4 separate regions of the Homo sapiens genome follow, and regions 1, 2 and 4 are each reported to be linked to region 3. The links are microRNA targets in miRTarBase. Many come from high-throughput screens and were not tested one by one. Region 3 holds a microRNA gene; each other region holds the end of a gene's coding sequence.
The links. Region 3 holds the annotated microRNA hsa-miR-548n (CAAAAGUAAUUGUGGAUUUUGU, at 1,601-1,622, opposite strand). A microRNA usually pairs through its seed, bases 2 to 8, with sites in the 3' UTR of a target mRNA and lowers its output. Matches are read on the target gene's strand: a 7mer-m8 pairs with bases 2 to 8, a 7mer-A1 pairs with bases 2 to 7 and ends in A, and an 8mer does both.

Region 1: miRTarBase lists DR1 as a target of hsa-miR-548n. Seed matches in the 3' UTR shown: 7mer-m8 at 1,455-1,461 and 8mer at 1,616-1,623.
Region 2: miRTarBase lists YTHDF1 as a target of hsa-miR-548n. Seed matches in the 3' UTR shown: 7mer-m8 at 2,788-2,794 and 7mer-A1 at 2,412-2,418.
Region 4: the mRNA of PPP6R3 is a reported target of hsa-miR-548n. Seed matches in the 3' UTR shown: 7mer-A1 at 1,615-1,621 and 8mer at 2,439-2,446.

The regions. Positions count from the first base shown.
Region 1 is chr1:93,360,008-93,363,156 of GRCh38, forward strand. DR1 (down-regulator of transcription 1) reads left to right here. Exons shown (of 3, transcript NM_001938.3): 3 at 486-3,149. The coding sequence ends at 632. Among named protein-coding and RNA genes, the nearest start is that of DR1, 16 kb to the left of the region's middle.
Region 2 is chr20:63,193,753-63,196,901 of GRCh38, forward strand. YTHDF1 (YTH N6-methyladenosine RNA binding protein F1) reads right to left here. Exons shown (of 5, transcript NM_017798.4): 5 at 1,677-2,982. The coding sequence ends at 2,956. Among named protein-coding and RNA genes, the nearest start is that of MIR124-3, 17 kb to the left of the region's middle.
Region 3 is chr7:34,939,204-34,942,352 of GRCh38, forward strand. MIR548N (microRNA 548n) reads right to left here and starts at 1,631; the gene lies at 1,557-1,631. It overlaps DPY19L1 (dpy-19 like C-mannosyltransferase 1), which reads right to left. Exons shown (of 22, transcript NM_001366673.1): 18 at 2,562-2,681; 19 at 950-1,124; 20 at 73-172. LOC102724723 (a long non-coding RNA gene) reads left to right here and starts at 3,023. Exons shown (of 3, transcript XR_001745166.2): 1 at 3,023-3,103.
Region 4 is chr11:68,612,783-68,615,931 of GRCh38, forward strand. It overlaps PPP6R3 (protein phosphatase 6 regulatory subunit 3), which reads left to right. Exons shown (of 24, transcript NM_001164161.2): 24 at 284-2,552. The coding sequence ends at 335. Among named protein-coding and RNA genes, the nearest start is that of GAL, 70 kb to the right of the region's middle.

The DNA.
Region 1 (3,149 bases), not on the chromosome of region 3:
TCTTTCCTATGAGGTAGAGGTACTATACTAGAGAACTTTTAAACCATATAAATAAATTTTAGATTGAAAAATGTTTGTATCAAAGTTGTAATATGAGGGTACAGAAGAGTCAAGTGAAATGAAAGGAAAAGAAGAGGGAAAGAGCCAGAGGGAATATTGTGGGTTTTTCACAATATTGGTTCCACTTTTTCAACTTCTTCAGTTGAATCAAAGGTCATAAATTACGTGAAATAAAACAGGGCCATTTATAAGAGATCCAAGTTTGAGAAATTTCTTAGACCTGTGTAGTTAGAAAAAAGCAATCTCTAATTATATTTACCTATAGAGTTTATGTTCTCCAGATGTGTGACAATTACATAGTACTTGGACAGTATCCAAGTATGATAATAAACTGTCTGAAATTGGCCTAATCTACATTTAACCAAAGTGTATATATTGTGGGTTTGTAAAAAATTGTTATTTTTTTTTATGTTTTGGGTGTTTAGGCTAGACAGCAACAAGCAGAATTGGCCCAACAGGAATGGCTTCAAATGCAGCAAGCTGCCCAACAAGCCCAGCTTGCTGCTGCCTCAGCCAGTGCATCTAATCAGGCGGGATCTTCTCAGGATGAAGAAGATGATGATGATATCTGAAATTCACCAGCTGAGTTTCTATTTCTTCTATAAATGTTTTTCCCTGCACAACAAAAACAGTGAAAGAAATGCTTATCTGTAATTTTGTATGCATCTTGGTGGACTTGTCATTGGTATTCTAGGGATGTCTGCTATTAAGTTTCATCTATTGTGTGCTATACATGTAAAAACTGTCTCTTTGAACTATTGAAAATTTAAGGTTCAGTATAATATCAATTTTGAATTTTTAATGGTGTTTATGAAATTTTAGATAGCAGCGAGTCCTTCGTTTGATCAATAAACAGTGTTACAGATAACTTCAAGTTTATAAAAATACAGTGAAATTTCTACAAAGCTCTAAATCTGCATTTGCATTTCCTCTGCCCTTTTAACTAAACTAAAACTTGTGAATTTTAAATTATTAAGGGGGGGGTGCTGTGTGAATCAGTAGACATTGGATTGGGTTGGTGAAAGAGTTCAGTTCTGTAGTATCTGAATTTGTCTTTTAAAATGAGTACATATATAGGCAATAAATATATATGCTCAGATCAATATACTTGTTTAGAAAAACTTCAAGACATTCAAAAACTAGGAAGGAGTATGTTTAATAGTATTTGTATAAATTTGGTGGTTATGTTTTTTTATTTTGTTTCTGTTTTGTGTAGAGGTAAAAACTATAGTTTTATTACAGCATAATTCATTTTGAGCTCCACTATGACATTTCAAAGACTGCCCAGTTTGGAAGTCTGTCATGATTTTTACTCTTTCACTCCAATTCAGTAATTGTTGATAGTATTACTTACCTAGTCCATCCATACTCATATTATTCAAATATATAGGTGGTACTTTTGAAACAATTACATTGGTTCTCTTGGTTTAACTGAGGTTTATGAATATTCAAACCTTTGCTGGGGGAAAGAAATGAAAGTTAATGAGCATGCTTGCTATGAGAGAGGGATTTTTAATTTAACTTGTAGTTATAGTTTACTTATTGTTTTTAGAATTACTTTTACATTTTCCCAACTAGATGGCCTAGAGTCCAACATTACCTTTTGAGATGACATTATTGTCTCCATAATTGAGTGATAGCTTTAAAAAAAAGATTAGTTTTGCTTAAGAAGTTATGTTACAACTGATCAGCCCTATATGAATTAACTGATCAGCCCTATATGAAACATAAGTTGTGTTATAACTTATCAGCCGTATATGGAACATAAATAGTTTCTACCTGCTTGTTAGAGAAGCTTTAATTTGGTTCTAATAAATACAGTATGGTAGTGTTTATAGGAATCCAGGATGTTGAAGAAATGGCATAATGTCTATATTTTGGAAACAGAAAGGAAAAGTCACTTAAGATAGTATTAAGTAATTAAATTCCTATGTCAGTTGCCAAATCTTTTAAACTTATGTATTCACCAAGCCCAAAAATAGATTGTGGCTCCCAGGATTCCAATTTTAATTGGAGAGCTAAGTAAGTAAAGTTTTATAACTGTTAGGTTTCTTAATGATCATATTTTGCAGTTTTAGTAAAAGGGAAATATTGTTATACATTTATTAAATATACTTCCCCCATGAAGTGAAAAGGTTAATTTTGCTGAATGTTTTAAGTTGAAGTTACTTCATGGATGTCATACCCATGAAGTGCATTTGGATGAGATAGAAGAAATTGTTTTTTAAAAAGTTTAAGTACCAAAGGTAGTCTAGTCTAGAACGATAAGTTAATACGTGTTGGCTTTTCTAATTTGTACTGTAACATCCTTATACTTTCTATTTTAAGTATATCTGTTTCTTAAGTAAACAACTTAGATATTTTCCACACCTTTTTTTTTTTTTCTGATGCAGAGTTCAGGTTAATATTTTACTGCATCTGATAATGTATTATACGTTTGAAGCCTAGTGACTTTTCATTTTGACATTCTTGTGATTTCATATGCTGTATTCTTCAAGCAATAAAATTGTGATGTGTTTTATAAATGGTTTTTATATTTAATGTTCTATAGAGAGATTTCTATTATTACCATTTTTACTATTTTCAAGAATCTTAGGCCCAAAAGACATTTTGGTCATTTGGTATGTAGTACCTGCCTTTTGTTTTTGTTTACTGTTATTTCAAAAAATGTGGTTTTACTTGTATTTTTATAATTTACAGTCCTAAGATCGAGGCATAACAAAGCTTACTTATGCAATATTTTATTTTTAGGTTTTTTCTTTTTTTTTTTTTTTTTTTTTTTTTTTTAGCATTTAAGAGTCACTATTATGTTTTGCCAGTTAAAATTTTTTAAATCTTTTGAAGAGAGAAACAAAATCTTCAGCGTTCTTGAGAAATAAAATTATTGTTCAGTAAGTATTTTTCCATCCCCTTGAATATATGTTATATATTCTTTTTCGGCAGATTATCAGATTAGTAAGTGTTTAAAAGGCATCAGTTTTTAAAACTGCATATACCACACACACACAAAACAGTACACAAATAAAGGTTTTCACAAATTAAACAAACTCACATACTAGTCTTCAGATCAAAACACAGAGCATTATGTG
Region 2 (3,149 bases), not on the chromosome of region 3:
GGAGGGGAAGAGGGAAAAAGGAATAGGGCTCATGTGGCTGGCTTTTAGGGAGGCAGGTGTGAGAAATACTAACAACTTACAGCTCTTTATAAAGCAAAATGAGATGAAATCCCTCCCCCGCCCCCCCAATTCTCACTCCACAAACCTATGCCTTTCGGTTCTCCCTTCCCCTGGTAGGCCTGGCTCCTTGCCTGGCATTACCATGCACCACGAATGCAGGCAGGAGGCCCCAAACACCCAGACACGGTGTCAGTTCTACAAAACTTTCCAAGTTGGCAGAAGGAGAAGCCACTGCCTCCTCCGGTTTGGAGGCCTCAGGGGAGGTGTTGTCTAGACCGCCCAATCCACTATCCATTCACAAGCCAGTCAGCAACTACCACTTGCCAGAGTCCCTGCCACCACCTCCCACTCTGTGGGGACAACAGCATCCACTTCTTCCACAACAACGAAACAACAAAGATAAAGCATGGCACCTGTCGTCATGCTTGCCACCTTTCAGCACCTCTCGGCTCAGCATTCTGAAAGCCGGGAACTCATCTTTAAAGGAGGCCAGGACTTGAATACAAGCAAGAAAATGGCATAAAATGAAGGAATTAGCCACTCGAGGTTGAAAACACACTTCCCTAAAATGACAGCAGCATTTGGAGCTGCAGGTGGGAGCACACAGCCTACCTCTAACTGGCCTGTCAGAACAGACACGTTTTCCCGTTCTCATTTTGTGTTTCCTTAAACCAACTACTAACTTCTGGCAGAGGTGGTGACTGCCTGGGAAAGATGCCATCCTCATCTGGCCCCCTTATCTATCAAGATGCAAACTAATAAAACCAGCGGGCGGGACACCCATTTAACCTGAAACCTCCTCTTTTGTTAAAAATGGACTGAATGTGTCTTCCGGTTAATAATAAACTTTGCTGGGCACTGGAATAACCACCAGCCTCCTCAACCGTGGCTGCTCTCAAAAGCAGATGTGGTGTTCCCTGTCCCGAGAAGGCTCCAGAGTATTTGGATTAAGGACCTGGATATGCAGATCCTACTCTTAAGAATTAACATTTCCTCCCTACCCCTCAAATGTAAAACTGGAAAAATTAAGAACTCTGTATTTTGCATTGCATTCTCTTAAAAATTCTGTTAAAAAAATCTCTTCACAGACTGGGTGTGGTGGCTCGTGCCTGTAATCCTAGTACTTTGGGAGGCCAAGGCGGGCGGATTGCCTGAGCTCAGGATTTTCTGGGCTGAGGCTAATATTGCATAACTTTATCACATACTTGTCAACTTCTGCAGATGTACACAATGTGCATTTCACTGCTTATAAATTTTACCTCAAAAGGAAAACAAACTAAACAGGTATTAAACTCTTATTGCATAAATAATAAGAGGCATTGGAGGATGAATGGAGAGAGACGGTGAGGAGCCAAGTCCAGAAAGGGGGTAGCGGTGCCCAGGTGCTGCACGCACCGCTGCGTCTGCACATTCATGTGATGAGGGGTGGGTGACGGTGCCATGTAGTTTATAGTCTTAAGGAAATTAACAGCTCCCTCTTCCAAAGCGAGGGAACGAGAATCCCACACCTTGAGAAACACAGGGCTTTCTACGGTGACTCCCCGAATGGCTCTGCAGCTTAAAAAGCTCCAACACATAAACTCATCAAGTAGGGTGAAGAATGAGGTGACACCAAGTTTGCTAAATAGTATTGTTTATTAAGGCTTGTATTCTCCTAGAGGAAAAACCCAATGTCGTCCAGGACTCCATTCAGGCAGTAACAGTTCAGAGGAAGTGACACGCTCTAAATACAAGTCTAATGATACAGCTGAAACGTTAACTCAGAGGGTCTTTTGGAGCAAGTAGTTTTCAGAAAGCGTCTGCTCTCTAGGACGGTAAGGATCCTCTACAAGGGCACGTGCAGATCCAGGCGCTGGAGCGTCAGGCATGGGCACCATTTTCATGCTTCAACTCAAACTCCAGGTGGTAGTGAGCTCAACGGTCCCTCATTCCACAAAACATGACAGCAAATTCATCTTCTAAAAAAAGTTTTGTTTTGTTTTTACCCATTCAACAGGAAAAAAAATTAGACACACACGATGAAATTTACAACCAGCAGCATCATCCATCACACTGTCTGTACTACCAGATCCTACACTTAAAGCTCAGCATTATTGGTATAAAAACTTAAGACGGCATTAGAATTCTTAAGAAAAGGTGTAAAATTTAAAAAGATGTGCAAACAACAAAGAATGCCCGACCCTGAACCAGACCTAAAGCACCTTCCAGTTCCTCCACACATCATGCCCCAACACCATCCAGCCCAATCGGACACCAGGACAGTGAGGGACGGGTGGCTGTTCAGTGGGCAACAGATCTGGAAGGAAAGATTTTCAAAAAAAAAAAAAAAGTGTCTGCCAAATTTGAAAAATTAAAAGTTATCTGTCTAGCAGAAAAATCAAATGGGTAAATTAGCACTTTAGACCGATAACAGATAATAAAATGACAAATCAGAATGAACAAAAAATCATTAACCTTTTGATTTCAGTATTTTCAAGAGATTTTATCAGAATACTCTAAATGACAAAATGACTCATGGTTTCTTATGTTTGCTAAAAAGCAATAAAGGGATGAGAAATATGAAGTCTCACAGAATATCAAATGACTGAATTTAAGAACACAATTTCTGCCAAAATAGATGCTTTGTTTTTAAGGATACTTACATTTCACATTAGATCAGTCTGATTGATAAGCTGACAAAAAAAATACTCCTTTATTAGTGACTTCTACAGGATTATAATACATAGAAAAAGTACAAATAAATGCAGATCCATCTGGGCAAAAATCAACGACAAGAAAGGCAAAGATGCAACACTCAACCCCCGCACGGGACGACACACTGGAGCTGACCAAGCACACGTGTTTTAAACTGTTTTCAAAGTCAAACGTTAGAACATGTAAGAAACTGGTTCGCCCTCATTGTTTGTTTCGACTCTGCCGTTCCTGTAAAAAGAAAAAACAAAAGTTGAACGCAGAGTAACCACACCAATGAATCCCTCCCAAAAGTGAGATCCGAGGCTGCCCCTTAGCAGCACCTGCAAATCTGGAGGCGGGACCCTGAATGGTACCCAAGCCACACCAGCACACAACTCTGAGCTGCACTGGGGCCT
Region 3 (3,149 bases):
TTGCTGGTGTCCTCCACTCACTGTCTGTTTGCATGGGAGGTTTGTTTTGATGATGCAAGACTGTGCACTGACCTCAAGCCTGCGTCTTCATAATGTGGATGATTCACAATGGGCCGAAGTGCAGAGAGCTTAACACTTGCCATCGTGGGCATGGCACCCGCAAACACTGCATCTGGAAGGCAAGAGGAATGTCTCAGGAAGACACTCAGTGAAGGCGAGAAGGTGTCTCCTTCAAGTGTAAATCAATTATTTCACAGGTAACAGAGCGGAAGCCCAGCAGGTTCATGACTTCAAGATTCAATGGCAGAACTAGCATGAAGTCAGATGGCTGATAAAGTAGCAGTTGGCAGCCAGGCCTGGGTAAACTATTTTCCTTGGAAAACAGAGCTTCATCATCTCATCATTAAAGATTTCTTTCTTTCTTTAAAGAAAAAATCTTAGAAATCTTTCCTGAATCTAAAAAAGAAGTATCAAATGGACTAGGAAAGCTTTACAGTAACAAGGAGTTCTGGAAGATGATTTAGTATTCAATCATTTGATACTCAGATGACAACAAAGTCTCCCTTTCCACACATGAATAAAATGTCACATTCCATGAGTTTATTTCAAGAAGGAATGTGAAGGACTAATATTAAAAATTCATTAAGAAAATAAGCACAGGAAAAATTATTTTAAATGTGGCATTTATGACTGTGAATAAATTTTGAAAAAATTAAAATCTATAAAAAATGGCAGAATAAATTACTAAGAACATATGTATAACATTTCCCCTGCAAACCATTTAAACAGGATTGATATCTCCTTTGTTTTAGATATTCTAAAAGCAACATTGCATAGAAAGAGTGAGATCAGTGGAAGTAACTAGGGTTTAAGAGTTTGCAGTGGTATATAAAATTGTGGGAAAAACAGCTAAATAATATGACTTTTTTTTTCTTTTTTTTTTTTTTACCTGGTTTAGTACTATATTTGATCCATTCTATAAGTTCTTCTTGGGGCAAATTGCTGAACTCCCCTACAATATTCCACTGGGTTTGCAGATTTGCTGAACCTTGTATTGACATTGCTGCTAATATAGCAAACACAATAGCACCAGGATGTACTTTGCAAAAGAGCCATCCAAATAGCTGAAACCAAATTAAGAATACATTGGTAATTGTTAGTATAAGTAGTATGCATCTGTTATGCAAAACTTCTTCCCAGAGAAGAATAAGGCCTCTGCTAGAGTCCCAAATAAAGGATTAATTATCCTAAAGAAAAAGCCCCAAAATAATAATCTTTGGGATCAAAAGGATTCTACCATCAGCCTCATATAAGTGGAACACAATGTAGGAAGCTCTTTTCTCAACCTGCTTTCACTACTCCCAGATTCAAGTAAAGCCACAACCAATTTACAAGGCCCAGTACAAAACAAAAATGTGGGGTCTCTTGTTAAAAAATTAAGACGTTCAAAACAGCAGCAGCAAACATTCAATCAAGTTCAGGGTCCTGAATGTGAGGTCCTGTGTGACCAGCAGGAACCCCACACTTGGAAAACCTGCCCTGGGTGACACTTTCTATTAGGTTGGTGCAAAAGTAATTGCGGGTTTTGCTATTTTTAACGACAAAATCCACAATTACTTTTGCACCAACCTATATCATCAGTCATGCTGTGGGATAAGACTCAAGATTAAAGGCTTCCAACCAGCCTCCTTTCCTGTGCCAGCCTGAAGGGGTCAGAAAGGTAGAAAGTAGTGCCTTTCTAACATAATACAACATACTGATTGGGAACCTCAAGGCTGGCTAATTTTTTCCACATCCAAATAGTCCACACTCCATAACAACACTTTGTTCTCTTGATCTTTCTCCACATGTCTACAGAGCTAGATTTCAAGTTTCTTGAGGGCTTATAAACACTGGCTTTTGACTTTTCTGTCTACTACTCTCTCCTCCATCCCTAGAGTGCGCAGTGTAGGTGCTTAGTGACTATCTGCTACGTCTAAGGGAGGTGCTGCTGTTGTACCTAGGCTGGTTGACTGATGGAAAGGTGACACTATGGAGAAGCATAAATCTGTGAATACAGAACAAGGAGGCAGCTATCCAGGAAAAATAAGCAGCAAACCACCAAGGAAGGCTTAAACTAAATTTTAAAAAGCACAAGTCAAGAATGTGCACACAAATTGCACCAACTGAAAAAAAAATAAGTTTGATACTAAAAAAAGAACATATAATTTTCAAGCACTTATAACCTGAAATTATTAGATTTCTTTGTGATATGAATGTCAAAACAAAAAAAGTTATTATTTGTACAATTAAGCTCTGCTTTCTATCAGCACCTGCAGTAATCACTCATGAACTCAGTCTGTACTAAATCGGTATTAGTTGTACACCAACAACTATTTTAAATCTTTAGAAAGATAGAAAATGATCAGCTTTGGCCCTTACCCTTTAAGAAAGATAAGTACAAAACCATGAAGAGCTTTAACTATAATCACTTAAAAGACTTTGTAATTCATTATTTTAGGGCCACTCAATAATAAAGGCTAAAATTATCATAGTAGCTATACTCCAACATAACATGTTACCTGTCTTGAGCAGATCAGTGATGCCATAACACACATGTGTGGTGTCAAGAAGAGTTTTAGTCTCATAATTAAAATACCAAGGGCTGTATATGCTAACAATTGCAATGCATGGTAAACCAGCTGAAAGAAAGAAGAAAATGTTTTTTACTCCTACTGTTTGTGAAGTTTAAGAATACTAAACTGGCAATATGCAGAAAGGGGTACGTTCTCCTTAGTAACAAAAAATACTACTAAGGTTTCTGAAACTTCGAAAACAATTCTTAAAATTCACTTTCAAACTGTTCCATTTTAGTGGAAGGCTAAAATTATAAAGTCATTAAGGCAAGTGTTTCTGTGATTCTCAGAGTCAAACCTGTGGTTAATAAAGCCCACATTTTTTAATCAACCTTGATGCTACCATCAGACCAAGAAAAGACAGTGGTAAAAGAAATGACTGCTGCCTCAAGATCTGAGGGCTCCACCTTGGAACTGCCCTCAAAACCAGACTGGACAACTAGGAGATGGGAGCAGTAACCAATCACATCTCTGAGGCCTCAAGCAAGGTGAGCAGAGAGGAAAGTGATTTCCAATCATGCAATAGACACCTCA
Region 4 (3,149 bases), not on the chromosome of region 3:
CTGTGCTTCTTGGAGGCCGCGGTGGGGCGGTTCTCCCAGAGCATTTGCTCTGCTGCTGCCCTTGCTGAATGCCTGCTCACCCGGTGATGAAGCTTAGATGCACTCACTCAGATTTTTCTAGAGCTTTTGCTCCATTCATTTACATATCATTTTATTAAAAACTTACTAAGTTCAAAACAATGTTAAAATAAGTTGTCCCTGCCCTTGGGGAGCTCAGCTAAGTAGGTTTTGTTTTTCATATTTCTGCTGCAAGTGCCTCCGATGCCTGTCTGTTGCTCCTTAGGACTGGCCAACCAAGCGCACCAGGTGACACTTCAGTGAATGGCCCTGTATGACGGGTGACGTCTGCTGCTGCTGACTGAGGACTGCAGACCGCCACCACTCAGGGGCTCTGGAGGGGTCAGCTGGAGCCCACCAAGCTGTCACTGCTGCACTCACTCTGCAAGGGATCAGGACCAGCAACCTTTATATTCTAGATTCTAAGACATTGTACAGAGAAATTCAGAAGTGTAAAAATATTGCACATTGACAAATACCAAGAATTTTTGCGTATGTTTATATTGTATTGTTCTAAATAATGGGTAGCCTGTGAAATAAGATCTTGCCACCCATGTAATAATAGTAGTAATACTATAGTTAAAATGGCTGTAAGAATAGTTTTATAAAAGTGAATACACAGATCTATTGTATTTGAAACATAACTTTGACAATTATTAGTGTGACCAAAGTATTAGGCGGTTTTCATACATTTTTCACCTTGTACAAAATTATGAATTCATTTTTCCTCCAGGCCGACAAGGAGTTGTAGAATGAAAATGCCCTCTAAGTGTTATTTTGGTTGTTCTAACTTACAAAAGTGATTTTGAATAAGAAATATTTGGTGTTCTTTTTATAACCAGTTTTTGATTGGTAATTGTTTTCTGTATTGTTTAAAACGGATCAAAAATGTAAGTCTATTGGTAGAGATTAAGTAAAGTATTTATTGCTACATCATAGTTGATAAATTGATGTTATCGTAAAGCCATATGTTCTGTTCAAGTCTTGTTTGCTTGAAATGATTATTCCTACAAGTGAAACACTAGACTATTTGGAGTGTATATGGCTTGTGTTTTGGGATTTTTTTTTTTTTTTTTTGGCTTTTGTTTTTGTTTGTTTTTTTGTTTCATTTGGTAGTTCATCTGCCTTTTAACCCATTCACCAAAATTTACCTTGTTAACAAGCATCACCAATGAACATTTCAGAGCAATCTGCATATTTAACAGACCTAAAATAAATCCTATTAGGCAAGTCAGTTGAAAATGCTCGTGCTGCTAATGGAATTAGAGTGCGTTCATTTTACAGGCTAGTATTTTAAAAGTAGAAATCAAAATCTGGCACCGAAGCATGCTAATTGTTTACTGTACCTTGTGAGGTTTTCACTCATAAATTTAAACCAGTGTATTTTTTTAGAACTGGTTTGTGTATATATATAGTGATTATGGATACTAATTCAATGTAATTTATAATTTTCTATGTCAATACAAAAATACATCACAGCCTTCTCAAACAGCTCAAGCAATATATTGTATATTGCCATATCGTCTGGTGAAAGGGTTAAATTACTTCACCTCTTGCACTTTTAGATGCAAATCAGTTTTTCATTTCTGTAATAGAAAATTATTCACGTATTTTTACATCATTTGTTTTTCCTGACCAGTATTTAAAACCAAAAGGATATTCTGAAAAATGGCCAACAATTTTTTTAGAAGTAGCATCCCAAGCAGCGTGCCTAAACATTACATTGCATATGGAAATAAAAGAATCAAACGTCTAATGCCTTATTATTTCTGATTTCCTTTTTCATTTTAAGTGGTGTGGAGATTCCAGCACTCCCAGGACAGTGGAGTCAGCAGTAAGCCCTGGGACAGGTGGCAAGGGTGGGTCCCTTGACCTTTGCACGCCTCCTCAGGAACCCCCTTTCCCGGGTGAGCCCCTCTCTGAAGAGACTGTCCTTGGGCCTCCTCTGGAAGCAGCACCCCCAGAGGACAGGGCTCCTCCTGCTTGCCTCAGGGCTGCCTGACTTGAATGGCGTTGGACCTCGGGGATTACTGGTAGATAATATGCTCTGGTCTCGCCTGGTGGTGAGTTTTGCCAGCCATGGCCAGGGTTTGGCTCCACTGGTGGCACACGTGGCCTCCGTGGTATGGACCTGGTGGCTTCTCCATCCCACTGTGGCCTCTGTGGTATGGACCTGGTGGCTTCTCCATCCTACCCAAGGTAACAGTGTCTTGCTTCATCCCACTGACTGCTGGGAGAGAGCCTCTGGGACTTTTCTTTGGGGCATCATTTTGTTTTGTCTTTCGTAGCAGGGAAAGGATATGACAATGGGGAGGACAGTTCTTTTGGAGGTTGGAGGGGCCAAGCCAAGGACAGGAGCAAGTGTGCCCTCATTTTGTTTCTACTTTTAATTTCTGTGTGTTGGCCATACTGAATTATGAGACTAACAGATGTCTACAATACAATACCTGTATTCAAAATAACAAAAATAAAGCCTGATTCTTTGTTTCTAGAAATCTCTTGTACCTTGCTTGGATTTTTAATGGGTTGATGTGTCCTGCCATTAGGTCCCGTGTTACACTAGGTCCTGTGTGAGAAAGACTGCACTGCACTGTGTGAGAGAGTGGCCTCTGGGATCAGGGGCTCATCCTCCCCACTGCCATAGCCCAGGTGCCCAGAAGAGGTGGTGCCTGACACCGGCTCTCAGTCTTGGGACGGCTCCAAGGGTTCCTCTGGACCTCCAGCTTGTTACTTTTATGTGCAGCGTGTCCCACCTATGTTGTTTGGCTCCCAGCCCAACAAGTCACAGTTAGGTGCTCCATAATGATTCTTAAGATGTGATGCTTATGTAGCTCCTTATTTTGCATTTTCCCTTCACCTGTTTGCTTAAAAACATGTTCTCTAGTCATTACCTCCTAGCAGGTCCTCTGCACAGCCTTTTGCTTTCTGGGCACGCATGCATCCCTCCGTGCCTGGGCCCACAGGCATCTCACACAGCACTGAGTACACACCTCTGCATGCTGGGCCCGCAGGCAGCTCACTCTGAGCTGTCTGGGTACCCACCTCTACATGCGAGTCCATAGGCATCTCACTGGCAATCGTGTAACCAGGGC